2 separate regions of the Homo sapiens genome follow, and region 1 is linked to region 2. The links come from fine-mapping of genetic effects on gene expression. Tissue or cell type: whole blood. Region 2 holds a variant in brackets; the other region holds the start of a gene. All regions are shown on one strand. Distances are from middle to middle.

The links. PIP is the estimated chance that this variant, and not a neighbour inherited with it, causes the effect.
Region 1: RERE starts here. The variant in region 2 is fine-mapped to the expression of RERE in whole blood (TOPMed, PIP above 0.99).

What each region holds. Positions count from the first base shown.
Region 1 is chr1:8,816,486-8,818,985 of GRCh38, reverse strand. It overlaps RERE (arginine-glutamic acid dipeptide repeats), which reads left to right and starts at 1,346. Exons shown (of 23, transcript NM_001042681.2): 1 at 1,346-1,826. RefSeq lists silencers at 809-1,038, 1,139-1,438, 1,689-1,748 and an enhancer at 1,102-1,396.
Region 2 is chr1:8,423,579-8,426,334 of GRCh38, reverse strand. The region is part of intron 11 of RERE (arginine-glutamic acid dipeptide repeats); the gene reads left to right. RERE-AS1 (RERE antisense RNA 1) reads right to left here and starts at 1,690. Exons shown (of 4, transcript NR_125999.1): 1 at 1,634-1,690. RefSeq lists silencers at 2,101-2,240, 2,551-2,756. The variant T/C (reference allele first, on the strand shown) is at 1,572.

The DNA.
Region 1 (2,500 bases), 390 kb before region 2:
GGAGGTGGCGGTGAGCCGAGATCGCGCCATTGCACTCCAGCCTGGGCAACAAGAGTGAAACTCCCTCTCAGAAAAAAAAAAAAAATGAATAATTCAATGTGGAAATTATAATCTGAATAGATTTTCCAAGGAGAAAATTATCACTTCTTTTGAAACAGATGAGTGAATTATTTTGTGCTACGTTTTCTACCCCTTATTTTATACGGACCTTAACTCCTTCGGGAAGAGTGTATGGTATAAGGACACCAATAAGCATTTACAGAATATTAACAAACCAACAATAGGTTGATGATTCACCCTGGATTCGTGCCAGGCTCTGTGAAAGAACTCAATAAACATGATGTGCATTTCAAAAACTGCTAATCATAATTGAAATTTCCAAACCCCTCAATCCCATAAATTATATGAACTAGAATATGATCATTTGGCCTGCCCCTACTCCCTTTACAGCATGATAGACCCTGTGATTATCAGGCTTTCGGGAAGTGGGACACAATACTTCATTCTTCAAAGAAAAAGAGGTGATGTTTGGTCTTTTCCTCTTTTTAGATTTTTTTTCACACGTACCTTATAGAGTTGTACACTGCTCTTTCTAAAATCCCTTCTGTACCTGTACAGTCTCTCCTTTATGCCTTCATGACACTTTTTATTCTTTTCAAATAAGCAGTGCGACTTATCACTTTTATTTTTCTTTCTGTAATTCATCTTTTGTCATGTACACTATTTGAAAAATATTACAAGCCGCTCATCAGAATTTCGAAAGAGTCCATATGAGAATGGTTTACACCCACTCTGTAGCCCGCAGCAACATGGATCCGCGTCCTAATGACTGAAAAGGCCAATTAAGACCCGGGTAACAGCAAGATCAACCGGACTTCCCCCCACCCCACCCGGGACCTGCCCGCGCCGCCAGCCCGGCCCAGCCCGGGGGGCGCGGGGGGCGGTACTGGAGCGCGGCGGGCGGCGGAGGAGGGCCGGCCTCGCACTCTCACAAAGACGCGCCCGCGGCGGGAGCCCAGCCCACCGCCTCTGGCCGCCGCCTGCAGCGCGAGCCCTCGAGCCCCGGGCCGCGGCGTTGTCAAGGCTCGGCCTCTCTCCGCCTTCTTCTCTGCTCATTTTATTAAAAAGATTAAAAAAAAAAAAAAAAAAAAAAAAAAAAGGAAAAAGAGATCCCGCCTCCTCCGCCTCCCATTGGCCGGGCCCCCGGCCGCGTCACACCGCGCTGTACCAATGGAGGGGCGCGATACTGCGAGGTGGGCCGGGCCCGAGCGGGGAGTGGGCGGCGGGTCGGTGCAGCAGCTCCGCCGCGGCTCCGCCACCATCGCGGAGGTGCCGCTGTTCCCACAGACGCTCGCGAGCAACCCTCCGCGCTCCGGAGCCTCCTCAGCCTCCCGCACACCCCGAGACGCTCGCCCCGCTGGGCCTCGGTCCCCGCCTCCTCCCCCGTCCTTTTCCCCTCTCTCGCTCCCCACATTGTCTCTGCCTCATTTTCTCTCCTAGTTGAGGATTAAAAAAAAAAAAAAATCACCATCATCCTCAGGGAGCCCCCTCGCCCTCGGAAAACAAAACCAGACATGATCCTGGGCTCCTGCTTCTGAAAGATCTGCCCGACCGAGGAGGAGGGAGCCTAGGTTCAAGTCGCAGGAAAGGTCACGGCAGGGAAGCCCCCTCAGCCCCTCCGCGTCGCCTCCCCGCGGGCCGCCCCTCTCGGCCCTGCGCCCCGCGGCCCCGCAGCCTCCGCGCGGCCTCCCGCCCCATCCCCGCCACTTTCCCCGGAGCTGGGCCGCGAACACCTCACTATTGATGGTGTAGCGCTTTAGGGGAAGGTAAGTGTCCAACTTGCCCGCGCCGGGTCGTGTGCTTTCTTTTTTGGCCCCTCGTCCTGGTGGTCAGAGAGGGTCGGCCGTGAAAGCAGTCACTCGCCCGGGGGGAGGCAGGAAGAAAAGGCTGGGGTCGAAGCCGAAGTCGAGGGGAGTCGGGCGAGGGCAGGGCACTTCTTTGGTCCTGTCCGGGCCAGGTGACCGTTCCTGCGTGCCTTCTGACCCCTGCTCTCTCTTGGCCTCTTATTCATGCTCTTGTTCTACTTGTTTGAGGTTAAACTATTTCATGTGACTACATTATTGGCTGAAACTGGAAGGGAAGGAAGTCAAGGACTGAAACTGTAAATTTCTTGAATGTTTGTGGATTTCGGGGTGCTGGGGGGAGGACTTTATTATTAAAGTATCATTTTCTCATTGGGGGAAGATTTCCTCTTTGTGCTCCCAATCTCTAGTTCTCAGCTGTATGTGATTAGAAAATTATGAAACCCAAAGTCACTTGCAGCAGAATAGAATTCTTACTATCCTGTTTTAGTTCTGCTCTCTGAAGGAGGGTGGCTTCTATTTATTACTAATTTTTAAGATGATGGAAAGATTCGTAGTTTTACATACACGTGTGTATGTGTGTCTGCTAGGAGGGGGGAAAAGTGTTGCAGGCTTCCTTTGAAACTGGTTGCTTGAGA
Region 2 (2,756 bases):
CTACAGGCGCCCACCACCATGCCCAGCTAATTTTTTGTATTTTTAGTAGAGACGGGGTTTCACTGTGTTAGCCAGGATGGTCTCGATCTCCTGGCCTTGTGGTCTGCCCGCCTCAGCCTCCCAAAGTGCTAGGATTACAGGCATGAGCCACCGCGCCCGGCTGAAAGACACTTCTTAGGAAGAATACTGAGGACTTTATGATTTGACATTGGACCCGAGAAGAGGAAAGTACAGACTCATAGAAAATGGTAACAGAAAATAGTTACCACTGTAGACGCCTGCCTGCATTTTACAGAGTGTGGCTCTGAGGATTTGAGGGGGCTTAAGTTTGAATTCTGGCTTTGTCTCTGAGGAGTTGATCTAGTTACCTATCTGTGCCTCAGCTTCCTTGTCTGTAAAATGGGGATAATAATTGTACTTCTTCTTAGGTTGTAAAGATTTCGAATTAATATATATGAGGCTCCTGGCATATAGTAGGTACTTAGTAACTATTGGTTGAATGGATGATGTTCAAAGGATTGCATCACAATAAATGGAAGAAACAGGATCTGAATTTGTTTGTCCAACTCTGCCACCTTACCCTGATGTTCCAGAGTCAGCCTTTCTCACATGCTGCCTTTATTGTGTAGGCCTCTTTTACTGGACCTGTTAGATGTCACTTGGTATCAAGCCCACGTTCCGATTGCATGGTCCTGGCGTTCCACAGCCTGGCTCACTCCAGATTGCCCGCCCCAAGTCTGTGTAGACTGTCCCCTGTAACCCACCTCCCATTCTCCACCTCTGACCTTCACGGAGGGCCCGGTCACCAAGCCACCTCCCACCCCTGCAATAGTTGCCCACCCCTTGTGATCTCGCTGATGTCACTGCCTTGGCGAAGGCATTCTGAACTACTACAGACCACTGCAGTCTAGCCTTCTTGGGTCCCTTGCTGCACTGATGAGCTGCACCTCACTTCTTTATGCTTGGCCAGATGACATCTCAGAATGTTCTGTAATGACTTCACACATACTTATCTTACGTGCAAAAATGAATCACAGTTCAGTAAAGGTCCATGGCAACCTTTATTATCTTCCTAGACCCCTCTCAGCTAGGTGCTCAGTAAATACCTGAATACTTGAAGAATGGATTAAGCGGCAGGAATTCTGATTACTGAGGTGGAGTGTGCCAGTAGTTGAGGTCCTCATCTCATACCTGAACTGTGTCAGCAGCCTCTTTAACTGGTCTGTCCCTAATCTACACTTAGGCCACACTGCCACTGGCACAGTCCTCATCCAGTCTTTTCATGGAAAGCTCCAGCTTCAGCCTTTCTGCCAGCCTACAATTAGGAACTCTTCCGTGCGGCCTGAAGGGCTCTCTGCAACCGGATCCTTGCCTGCCTCTTTCGTCTTATCTGCTGGCACTCCATTCTGCACACCCTGTCCTCCTTGCAGTTCCCAGAATGTTCCCTGTGCCTTTTCCTGGCTGACTTCTGCTGGAAGCCCTGCTGGAGCCCACCTGGCAGGCTCACACTCTTCCTTGTCACTTCCTCTAAGACATCAGCAAGCAGAGTAAGTTGCTTCCTCTTCCTAGCT[T/C]CACCCACCACCCTTTGTTCCTCTGCTGCTTTTCTTGCAGGCCCTAGGACTGGTTTGTTTACCTGTCTGCCTTCCTGGGCAGACTGCAGCTCCTTGAGGGCAGGGCCATCTTTCCGTGCCGTCTCTCCCGGTGATATGCTGTGTGCACACAGCGTAGGATGCCTGTTGATCATATAAACGATACTTTTGTCAAGTAACAAAGGTCACTCCTCACACTAGAGGAGAGCTTGCTGCTTTCTTGTGCCTTGAGAGATTTTCCCTTCGAACTGTATGAATTATATTGAAAATTGACAATGATGAGTCATATCTCAGCAAGGGTGAAATTCAAAAACGCAAAGCCTCCACTACTGGAGTAGGAGGTTGCAGACTGGTCTTAAAAGGCTAAGTCTGGCCCTTCACTGAATCCGCCTGGCGGGTCTCAAACACAGGGAGTGGGAGGGACCCTCTGCCCGGTGGGCAGGTGATTTATTGGCTGGGAAGCTTCCGCGGTGATTTAGTTGTGAAGCGGCGGCCGGGGAAGTGCAGGCTAATGCCTGGGCCGCCAGGGAGAGGCCGCCCACAATCGCGGGCCGGAAGGGACCGCGGGGGGCGTCGGGGCCAGCCCCCCGTTTCGCAGCTGAGGCGGGGTTGGGGCGGAGGGCGTGCGGCCGGGGCGCAGCCGACTTCGTCCATCCGGAACGTGGGCTGGAGACCCAGCAGCCTGGGAAGGGCCCCAGCCCTGTGGGCGCCCTCTCCCCACGCTTGCTGCGGTAGGGAGGAAGTTTCTGTGCTTTACCGCCTTGATGTTCTCCTGTCCGGAAGGAGGACACAGATTCCAGCGCCGGGTGCCCTGGAGGCTCCGGCCTCGGGGTGGGGGTCGGGCCGGGGGCGGGGCCGGGGCCGGGGCGCGGGGCCCCGGCTGGCGGACAGGAGGGCGGCGGCAATCCAGGCCGCCTTTTGCAGCCGCCCGCGGCCGCGCCGGGCTCTGCGCGCCGCGCTCCTGCCTCCTCCCCCGTCAGCGGCGGCCCCAGCCCCGCGCCCCCCGGGCCCCGCGCCGCGCGGCCCCGCCGCGGTCACACGCCGAGCCACCCGCGGCCGCCTCCGCCCTGCGCTTTGTGGAGCCGGAGCCCAGTGACAGGCGACGGCCTCTTGCCGCCCCGGACCCCGGGCGCTTACCTGTGGCTGCTGGGGTCGGCCGCCCGGGAC